3 linked regions of the Homo sapiens genome follow. The protein of the gene in region 1 purifies or fractionates together with the protein of each later gene. This does not show direct contact. Each region holds a gene or a part of one and is shown on either strand. Other genes may lie near its edges. The genes, in order: FBXW10, TPST1 and MGAT1.

Evidence for each region.
Region 2: the proteins of FBXW10 (region 1) and TPST1 purify together in Homo sapiens (affinity purification with mass spectrometry, with the first as the bait; one study listed by BioGRID). This does not show direct contact.
Region 3: the proteins of FBXW10 (region 1) and MGAT1 purify together in Homo sapiens (affinity purification with mass spectrometry, with the first as the bait; one study listed by BioGRID). This does not show direct contact.

What each region holds. Positions count from the first base shown.
Region 1 is NC_000017.11:18,771,529-18,775,178, forward strand, and holds part of FBXW10 (F-box/WD repeat-containing protein 10), read left to right. Parts: intron 1-883; coding exon 884-1,155; intron 1,156-3,607; coding exon 3,608-3,650. UniProt on the Homo sapiens protein: Probable substrate-recognition component of a SCF (SKP1-CUL1-F-box protein)-type E3 ubiquitin ligase complex which mediates the ubiquitination and subsequent proteasomal degradation of target proteins. Overexpression is leading to degradation of CBX5 and CBX1.
Region 2 is NC_000007.14:66,203,685-66,207,434, forward strand, and holds the start of TPST1 (protein-tyrosine sulfotransferase 1), read left to right. Parts: upstream 1-1,649; 5' UTR 1,650-1,838; exon of another isoform or gene 1,839-2,237; intron 2,238-3,750. UniProt on the Homo sapiens protein: Catalyzes the O-sulfation of tyrosine residues within acidic motifs of polypeptides, using 3'-phosphoadenylyl sulfate (PAPS) as cosubstrate.
Region 3 is NC_000005.10:180,792,730-180,796,379, reverse strand, and holds part of MGAT1 (alpha-1,3-mannosyl-glycoprotein 2-beta-N-acetylglucosaminyltransferase), read left to right. Parts: intron 1-504; exon of another isoform or gene 505-1,499; intron 1,500-2,013; exon of another isoform or gene 2,014-2,113; intron 2,114-3,282; 5' UTR 3,283-3,408; coding exon 3,409-3,650. UniProt on the Homo sapiens protein: Initiates complex N-linked carbohydrate formation. Essential for the conversion of high-mannose to hybrid and complex N-glycans.

The sequences.
Region 1 (3,650 bases):
TATAAAGTATAGATGTTCTGTCTACATCTAGAGTGTGTGCAGAGATCCTGGAGTGACAGCATGGAGTGTGTGGTGTCTGCGTGGAGGGTCTATGAAGGAGAAGAGGCCTCCCCATTAGAGAGCTTTCCTCATTCCCAGCAGCAATAGTAATATTGGGTTTGGAAGCTGTGCTTAAAACAAACAAAGAAACAAAAACACTGAATTTCAAGACATCTGTGTGCAGAGTACCTTCTTGGCACCCTAGGTACGTGGCACTCACTCCAGGAACAGAAATTCATTTAAAAGCATTTTAACTTGAGGCCAGGCGCAGTGGCTCGTGCTTGTAATTTCAGCACTTTGGGAGGCCCAGGTGGGTGGATCATTGAGTCCTGGAGTTTGAGCCCAGCCTGGGCAACATGGCGAAACCCTGTCGCTACTAAAAACACAAAATGAGCTGGGCGTGGTGGTGCGTACCTGTAATCCCAGCTACTCAAGAGGCTGAGGCACGAGAATCGCTTGAACCCAGGAGGCGGAGGTTGCAGTGAGCTGAGATCATGCCACTGCACTCCAGCCCGGGTGACAGAGCGAGACTCCTTCTCAAAATAAAAAAATAAAAATAAAAAATAAAAAAGCATTTTGACTTGAGAAGTGAAACAATCGGAACATATGTGCCCCGATCATGTTTATTTTTTAAAGAAAAGAGTGACAAAGCTAACGACTCCTGCTGCATCTCCTGGTAACTTTCACCACTCTCCACCCTCCAGCTGCCTACACTACTAGTCTGTTTGGTCATCACCTGGGCACTGTTCCTTTAGTCTAAAGACCAGGTGGGATGGTAACTGCAGTGCATCTTTCGGTGGCCTCCACAGTCCTTTTGTGGACAACCCTGTTGTTTCGGTTCCAGGATGGTGGTCAACACAGAGAGCAATGTTCTCATGTTCCAGTTTGAGCACATAAAGTGGCAGTATGCCGTGGAAAAAACGAAACAAAAGAAGAATAAGGAGAAAGAGGAGGAAAAAGAAGAAAATAGTCTCATGGAAATTCTCTCTAAGTGTAATATTCAGGTTCACAGCCCAAGAGAGTCTGTATCCAGTAAACAAACTGTGATCCAAGAGCTCCTACCAGGCAAACCTCCCAAGTCCCGAGTACTCCTGAAGCCGGCCAAGTTCTCTTCAGGTAAAAAACTGAAATACCAGCAAGTTCAGTGATAACCCACAGAGCAGGTCGGGGTTTGGTGGGGGTGGTGGGAGACGGGGAGGACTGGTTCGTTTGTGGAATATTTTGGCCAGTGGTTTCCTGAGGATATAAATCCTAACCCTCCAGGAAGGTAGGAGCCATTCTCTCTGATCCACTAAACAATTTATCAGCCAGTTAAAGGGAACATTCTGGTTTGCAAAAGCTAGATTTTCTTTCTTTCTTTCTTTTTTTTTTTTTTTTTGAGATGGAGTTTCGCTCTTGTTGCCCAGGCTGGAGTGCAATGGCACAATCTTGGCTCACCGCAACCTCCGCCTCCCAGGTTCAAGCGATTCTCCTGCCTCAGCCTCCTGAGTAGCTGGGATTACAGGCATGCACCACCACGACTGGCTAATTTTGTATTTTTTTTTTAGTAGAGATGGGCTTTCTCCATGTTGATCAGGCTGGTCTCAAACTCCCGACCTCAGGTGATCCTCCCGGCTTGGCTTCCCAAAGTGCTGGGATTACAGGTGTGGGCCACCGTGCCCGGCCTGCAAGAGCTAGATTTTCAAACTTATAAGAACCTTTGCACAGTAGATAAGACTAGCCTTAATACTTACCACTGAAACAAAAAGCAAGCAACCAATACCCCCACCCCCCAAATTCAAAACATATATTACATAACTATTTCTTCAAGACAGAGACAGAAGTTGTTATAAGCAGAAAAATGATCTGTGCAGAATGTATTGTTTTTAGACCTGAGAGATAATGTTTGTAGCTGGAAAATCTTACGTATAAAGCAGGTGTGTGTGTGTTTGTGTGTGTGTATGTAGGTGGGGGTGCAGGCATGGCCAATGCCATTTATAAGACATCCAAATAATACATTATGTGTGGGTTAGAGTAGCAAGACTCCTTCCTTTTACCAGCCCTATATTTGGCATGTGAAATTGGATCCACAGATCTATAGAGAACAATGATAAATCACCCCCAAGCATATCACACTACAAATAGTCAGCTATCTCTTGAGAGGAGGGAACTGAGAGTGTTAGCTAATGCTTAACAGTAGGAAAAGTGGGTGGGAGGGGGAATCAGGATGGGATCTAGGCCTTAGAATTGCCAACCTAAAATAACCAAAAGATTCAGGATCTAGCTAAAAGAGTTTACCCGAGTGCAAAGTTTGAGGGCAGCATCCAGGGACACAGGGGCACCAAAGACTAGTGACCAGTGTTCCTGGAGTGGGGAAAAGTGAAGATCCTTTAAATAGACAAAAACAGAGGTGCTGAACAGAATTCAGTTTTCCATACAAAGGCTAACATACAGATGTAAGACTAGATCGGCTACTATTGATTACACTCTAATGGTTGCTTAGCATTCTGCTGTAAAGAGGTGACAATTACAAGGGGAGTTGCTTAACATTCTGCTGTAAAGAGGTGACAATCACAAGGGGAGTTGCTTAACATTCTGCTGTAAAGAGGTGACAATCACAAGGGTGTCTATCTCCACATCATTTAGTCTTGGTTTCAATGAAGAATAGAGAGTCTGGTTAATGGAAAAGACCTCAGCACAAAGGTCTGGAAGGAATGGTCACGCACCAGAGCAGGAAAACAGCTGCGCTATGTGACTCAGTTTCCAGGGTTTCACTTTTCCCTGTCACATACGTCAGTTTAGAAGGTTGTTACACTCTCTTTACTTTTCACAGACTCCAGGTAACTACTTGGTTTCATACGACAATAAACAATATGGTGTTTGGTAGAAAAATACAGTTAGATGGAAGGGATAAGTTCCAGCGTTTGGTTGCACGGTAGGATGACTACAATTAACAATAATGTATAGCCGGGCGCAGTGACTCATGCCTGTAATCCCAGCACTTTGGGAGGCTGAGGCGGGTGGATCACCTGAGGTCGGGAGTTTGAGACCAGCCTGACAAACATGGAGAAACCCCGTCTCTACTAAAAATACAAAAAAATTAGCCGGTGTGGTGGCGCATGCCTGTAATTCCAGCACTTTGGGAGGCTGAGGCAGGAGAATCACGTGAACCCAGGAGGTGGAGGTTGCGGTGAGCCGAGATCGTGCCATTGCACTCCAGTCTGGGCAACAAGAGCGAAACTGCATCTCAAAAACAAACAAACAAATAAACAAAAAACCAATAATGTATTGTATATTTCAAAATAGCTAGAGGAGAAGATTTGGAATGTTCCCAACACAAAGAGATGATAAATGTTTAAGATGATGGATATCCTAATTATCTTGATCTGATCATTACACATTTTATGCATGTATCAAAATATCACATGTACTCCATAATTATGTATAATTATGTACCCATAAAAAACAAGATAGTGATATTTTGTATAAAAATCAGTCCAATTATCAGCCCCATTATTATTGATTATATTATTTTATGCCCTAATCGAAGTATATAATGACTACAGCTTCTTCCTCAATCTCAATTTAGCAGTGTTAATAGAGGAACTTCAAAGTCAAGGAAAGTCAAAATC
Region 2 (3,750 bases), on another chromosome or scaffold:
CCGTGTTAACCAGGATGGTCTCGATCTCCTGACCTTGTGATCCGCCCACCTCGGCCTCTCAAACTGCTGGGATTACAGGCGTGAGCCACTGCACCCGGCCACACACAAAAACTTCTACACAAATGTTCATAGCAGCATCATGTATAATAGCCAAAAAAGTAGAAACAGATGTCCATCAATGGATTAATGGATAAATAAAAGATGATGTCCAGCCAGGCACGGTGGCCCATGCCTGTAATCCCAGCACTTTGGGAGGCCAAGGCAGGCAGATCACTTGAGGCCAGGAGTTCAAGATCAGCCTGGGCAACTTGATGAAACCCCGTCTCTACTAAAAATATAAAAATTAGCCAGGCATGGTGGCACATGCATGTAATTCTAGCTACTTTGGAGGCGGAGGCATGAGAATCACTTGAGCCCAGGAGGTGGAGGTTGCAGTGAGCCAAGATCACATAACTCCACTCCAGCCTGGGAGACAGAGTGAGACTCTTCAAAAAAAAAAAAGGTGATGTCTGTATAATGGACTATTATTCGGCCGTAACAAGGAATGAAGTGCCGATACATGCTACAACATGGATGAACTTTGAAAATATTATACTGTGTGCAAAGGAAGGTAGTTACCTTCCCGGGTTCAAGCAATTCTCCTGCCACAGCCTCCCCAGTAGCTGGGACGACAGGCGTCCGCCACCATGCCCGGCTAATTTTTGTATTTTTAGCAGGGACGGGGTTTCACTATGTTGGCCAGGCTGGTCTCGAACTCCTGACCTCAGGTGATTCACCAGCTTTGGCTTCCCAAAGTGCTGTGATTAGAGGCATGAGCCACCCCACCTGGCCTAGCAGAGAGCAATTTTGAATACAGCTGTTAGATTCTGCACTCATGCCTTCTCTAATCCATGTCACTGGAGTAGAAATAATTGCTTTGACAGAACCTGGTGTAGATGTGTCTGTAGGAAGAAACTGTAAAATGAATGGATCATTTTGTGAAATATCTGCCCTTTCCCCACCTTTCTTTTGCTTCTTTGCCTTTTTCTCCCTAGTTTTCATTTCTTTCTTTTAGGGCGTCAGCCCCCCACCTCTGTGGTTGGGAGGGACTATTGCACGTCTACACTCTCGTGGGGATGAAATAGTGTTTGAGTTCGTTATTTGCATTTGCGCGTTATCTCCCCGAGGAGATGACAGCTTCTCTGCCAGCAGCGGGCAAAGGTGGGCTCTGAAGCAGAGGAGAGGAATTATCAGGAAAAGCTCATTTTCTTCTCCTGTCCTAGGGTTTCACTGATGAAGGCCTCTGGGACACCCACGTTGGGGGTGGGGGCGGTGAGGACCGCCACCTGCCCGCGGCTCCCCTGCAGCCAGGCCACGCGCGCTGTTGCTAGGGCAACCACCCGGCCAGGCCTGCGGCTGCCGGGAAGCCCCCTCGGGAGCGCGCACGGGAAGGGCTGTGGGGGCGCTGGCCGGCTGCGACGTCAGACCCCCGCCCCTCGGCGCCTGCCGGACCCAGCTCCATTCCCAGCCGCGCCTCCTTCGGTGGGCAGCCGGCCGGAACTCACGAATCAGAGCAGCCGACACATCGTCCGCTCAGCCAATCGTAGCAGATGTGTGATCCCGCCACCTCCCCGGACCCTGGCGGTTGTCGCTGAGTTGGCGACCGCGGGAGACGCTGCTGAGGCGGCTTCGGTTGCGGGTCGGAACGGCGCTGCTCTGCGGGGCCGGTCCAGGCTGGCAGCTGCCGGCGCTTGGCGGTGAGGGCGGGCTCCCGAGTGGCCCCCCACCGAAGGCGGTGGGACCAGCGGCTGAGGCCAGGATGCCGTCCAGGCGGCGCGGCGGCTCCTCACTCATCCCAGGTAAGGGGGACGCGGCGCTCGCTGCGGCTCCGCTCCCCTCTCGTCTCCTCACACCCGGCCCTGTGCCCCGTCCTGGCATCCCTTGGCCCCTTGTCGCCTTCTGCTCGGTGCCTCCCGGTTGTCCAACCCCGCCCCCGAGCGCGGAGCCCCGGGTCTGGCCCGTCCGGCCCCTGCTCCCACGCCCCTTCCCCCATCGCCGGCATTTCCCGGGCTCGGCTTCGCCCCGGCCGCCGGGGCCTCTCCCCTCTGCCCTTTCTCTCCCTTCTCGCAGCCCTGGGACCACGTCCTAGCCCCGCAGTCCCCTGGGATGAGACCCTCGTCTCGCCGGGATCGGACATTTGCCCCCACGTCTACCCCGGCTGCGCTTCTTGAGCTCATCGCCCCATCATCCTACCCGTTGTACGTAGTCCTGTCTGCATGGCAGTCGCCCGCCCCGCTCCAGGTGTCCCTGGGTCTTGCCCTTTTGCTCCTAAGCACCTTCCTTTCCCAACTCGCCTCTTCTCCCCTCACTTTGACCACCCACCATCGCAATCTCCTCTTCCTTCTCTTACTCTTAAACCTCCAGACACTTTCCCACTCTCTGCAATGCCGGATTCATCGCTTTTTTTTTTTTTTTTTTTGAGAGATGGAGTCTCTATGTTGCCCAGGCTGGCTTCGAACTCCTGACCTCAAGCTATCCTTCTGCCTCGGCCTCCAAAGTGCTGGGATTACAGGCGTGAGCCACTGCGCCTGGCTCAGATCCATAGTGTAATATCTTCATTCGTCCTTACATGAGCTGCACCCCATAACATGTAAAGTCCCTTGCCCAGAGTCTAGCACACAGTAGGCCTGGCACATGGTGGGTGGTCACGCATGTTAGCCTCTTCCTCCTTCCAGGCGTTTTGTACTTTCCAGATGATGGTAGCAAGAAGTCCAGTGTCCACAGGGATTTGACTCTGCCTGAAGAATGGTATGGGAGATGGCAGGAGAAATTGGTGAACTCCAGTAAAGCGATTAAATGGTCAATTACTGCATTCATTAAGAAGAAACAATTCTGCTATCCGTGCCATGTATTGTTTTATGTTAATTGCCTTTGTAAAGGATTCTTAGGCTGCTAGTCAGCAGGCTTTGCGGTGTAATTACTCCCCATCCCCTCTCCATCCCCATCTGCAGTGTTTGGGTAACTTTCTTTTTAGGAAAGAAAGAGCCCCTACCTCCCAGCTAAAGTGGCATAGTATATAAGCAATGTGGTACGTGTTTATCTATTAGCTGGATAGTCCAGGGAGCTGCAATGAATTTTCATCTTTTAAGATCCAGGAGGAATCAGGATTTGGATTTCCTGGAATCAGCTGCTGTACAGACCAAATATGCTTAAGAATGAAACTTCTGACAAGTCCTCTAAGAGTGAGAGAGGAATTATCCACCCCTCTCCCTCCCCCTCTCCAAACACTCGCTCTTGGAGGAAATAGCGAGTCGATTTTTAAAAAAGAGTAAAATACGTTTGACTTTTTAAAATGATAAAAGCATTGTCATTGGCCCTGTACTATTCTTGCCACCTTTGCTCTGATGGTCTCAAGCCTGGACGAATCAGTCAGCTTTTTCTGCTCCTGGGCTCCCAAGGCAGACTGGCAAAAATCATATAACTAAACTGCTGGGTGCTGTTTCTGCACTTCTGGATCCTGGAGATCCTTTGACTTAACCTCTAGATTCCTCTTATGTCCTAAAATCTAAATGGCTGTTTATGGATCTTTACCATTTTTCTCTGACTCTTTGTCCTACTCTTGCCTTCTCTTCATTGCTTATTTTGCCACTTAACTTCACAGAATAAATTGGTGGGCATCAGCCCTGAACTCTTAAGGAGAGGTCATTTTTGTCTGTGCCTGTCTGTACCTGATTTCTAATATCCTTTCCTCTGATCTCAGAAGAAGAGGGG
Region 3 (3,650 bases), on another chromosome or scaffold:
CACAGTTACATGGAAACAGACTTGACGTTTCTGAGAAGACTGATGTCCTGGCGTGGTGGGGGTGGTTGGTTTCTAGGAAGAAGACAAGTGGTTGGTGGTGAATGCTGGCAGGGGCTGGTGAAGTCTCCCCAGGAGGGAGACAGAATCCATGTCTCTTTAGAGGCCCTTCAGGATCAGCCCTTTTATACCAGATCTGCTGGTTTGAGAGCCCAGAGCCTCAGAGGTTAGATCTGAGGCCCAAGGTTTTGGCCAGGATTAGAGAGTAGCCTGTGAGGCAGAGGGCAACTGGCAGAGCTGTTGGTGTAAGAGGGTGCACGCCTGAAGCTTTGGGGTGTAAAGGGTAGACCAGAGGCAGGACAGTCAAGGAGTTATGGTCTGGAGTGGCAGCTGGCTGGGAATTGGGGAGTGTTTCAGATCCTTTCAAGTAATGTGGTCTGGTAGAGCTTGGAGGATTGGTGGGACCATGCCTTTTTCTCACTGGTTTGTGTCCTGGTTCCTTCCCAGAGCCTGGCAGAGAGCAGGTGTGTGATACACGTCGTCAGGTGACTGACCGAGGAATTCAGGGCAAACAGATCATCTCAATTTGCCTTGCTGATGTGCCAGCTGGGATTACGCTGATGGATGAAGCTCTTCAGAGCTATGGGCAATATCTACATATTTGATTGTCAAGAAACTTCGTGTGGAAATAGCTTCAAACTTACACAAATTGCAAGAATAAAAAATAGTATAAGGATATTCGTACACACTCTCTTTACTCAGATTCACCTGTTAATATTTTGCTCCATTTGCTCTCTATGTGTGCAGAGTATGTTTTTGTTCTGAACCATTTGAGAAGTTGCATCTATCCTGGTCCTCTACTTCTCAATACTTCAGTGTGTATTACCTAAGAATTGGAATTAATCAGTTATCACTGATACTTTAACCTACTGTCCATATTCCACCTTTGTCATTTTACCCAATAACGTCTTTTTAAAAAAAGTTTTTTGAGGTTTCATTGACATACAATTGATATCAATATGTGCAAAGAACTGCATATAAAGTGTACAATTTGATAAGTTTTGACATATATGTGTGTGTGTGTATATATATATATATATATATACCTGTAAAAGTATCACCACAATCAAGATAATAAACATATCCACCCTTCTAGAAGCTTCCTAATGCCCCTGTGTAGTAACTACCCTACTGCCCTTCTCTGCCTCCATCCCCAGGCAACAACTGATCTGCTTTCTGTAATATAGATTAGTTTCTATTTTCGGCAGTTTTATGTCAATGGAATCACAGTGTATGTGCTCTTTTTTGTTTTTCCCAAAAAGACCCATATTGTGTAATTATTTGGAGATTGTGTTGTGTATGTCAGTGGTTTATTCAGTTTTATTGCTGAATATTATTCCATTCTATGAGTAAACCACAATTTGTTTATCTGTATTTCCCTGTTGATGGGCCTTTGGGTTATTTCCAGTTTTGAGTGATTATGAATAAAGTTACCATCAACACTCCTGTGTAGGTTTTTGTAGGGACATGGCTGAAAGTAGAAAGAAATGGGGCATGCAGGAGAGACTGGGCTTGGTTATAACAGCCTGTTATCCCTGGGGAACTAGCTCACTCACCAGAGGACGTTAGGAAGGATCTGCCCCTGCCCCCCTTGTGATCCAAACACCTACCACTAGACCCCACCTCCGGCAGCACCACCACACAGGGGATCAAATCCCAACATGTGTTTCAGAGAACAAACCATATTCAAGCTATAGCATAGCTACGTAATTATTATAACACTATTAATAAGACCATCTTTGCCTTGGGAATTTTAAGTAGCACCTTTATTACATATTAGATTTTTTTGTGTAATGAGTCTGTTTCTGGAGCTTAAATTCTATTTCACTGGATGGTCTGTTTATTTATGTACCAGTACCACGCAGTTGTAATTATGGAGGTTTTGTAGTATGCCATATATATATATATATAATAAAAAAAAATTTTTTTGAGACAGAGTCTCACTCTCTTGCCCAGGCTGGAGTGCAATGGCACAATCCAATCACAGCTCACTACAGCCTCAGCCTCCCAGACTCAGGTGATCCCATCTCAGCCTCCTGAGTAGCTGGGACCACAGGTGCGTGCCACCATGCCCAGCTTTTTTTTTTTTTTTTTTTAATTGTTACTTGTAGAGACAGGGTCTCCGTGTGCTGCCCAGGCTATTCTTGAACTCCTGGGCTCAAGTGATCCTCCTGTATTGGCCTCCCAAAGTGCTGGGATTGCAGGTAGGAGCTACTGCATCTGGCCAGTATGCAGTATTTTCATATCTGGTAGGGCTGAGTCCCTCCTCACAGCTTATTTTTATTGTTTTCCTAGTTTTTCATGTGAACTTTACTGTCAGTTCGTCTAGCTCCATAAAAAGGTATTTTTATTGGGATTTTTGATGATGCTGAAATGTCCTGACCAAGAACAAGGGATATTCAGATGTTCTTTTGTGTCTTTCAGGAATGATAGTTTTGTTCACATAAGTTTTGAATGTTTAAGTTTATTTAAGTTTATTTCTAAATATTTTCTCATTTCTCTGGCTTTTGTAAGTAGGGTTTTCTCATCCATGTTTTCTTCTCATGAGTTATTTGTGGATATGAAGGCTATCCATTAGTATATGTTGATTTTTATATTACACTTCCTTGCTCAGTTCATTATTGATTCTTTTTGAGTTTTCCAGGCATATTCTCACAAGTAAAGATAATAGAAATAGTTTGCTTCCTTTCCACTTCTGCTTTGAATTTTTTTTTCTTGGTTCATTTGCATTGGCTGCTTCCTCCAGCAAAATGTTAAATAACCCTGGAGATGATGGGCAACTTCGTTTTGCTCCTGACATTCGTGGGGTGCCTCTGGTGCTTCCCTGTTGGTAAGGGGTTAACTGTAGCCCTGAGGTGGGACATTTGATTTTAAAAATCAGTCATCTTGGGGCGCTTAGGTTAGAGGAATGGTAGGCAGATGCTGTCACTCCTTGCCCCTCCCCTCCTCCTTCCCACCTGGAGGGGAAATGAAATCTGACAGGTAGAAAGAGGGGAGTTGGGGTTCTTTTTCTCTCTCCCTCCACCAGCATCACTCTCTGCCTCTCCCTCAAAAATACGTTCCTGGGTCAGGATATATGTTGACTCCCTAGAGAGCTCTGGAGTCAACCTCCTGGCCTTCCTCCACCCTCACTCTTGGCCTTTTCCTGCCCCCATTTCCTCTACCTGTGGGGCATGGAGCCACGAGCCTTTGTGTGACGGTTTGCTTTCTCTCTCCTGTCTTTAGGTGCATGGCTGCCTCCTAATCCCATAGTCCAGAGGAGGCATCCCTAGGACTGCGGGCAAGGGAGCCGGGCAAGCCCAGGGCAGCCTTGAACCGTCCCCTGGCCTGCCCTCCCCGGTGGGGGCCAGGATGCTGAAGAAGCAGTCTGCAGGGCTTGTGCTGTGGGGCGCTATCCTCTTTGTGGCCTGGAATGCCCTGCTGCTCCTCTTCTTCTGGACGCGCCCAGCACCTGGCAGGCCACCCTCAGTCAGCGCTCTCGATGGCGACCCCGCCAGCCTCACCCGGGAAGTGATTCGCCTGGCCCAAGACGCCGAGGTGGAGCTGGAGCGGCAGCGTGGGCTGCTGCAGCAGATCGGGGATGCCCTGTCGAG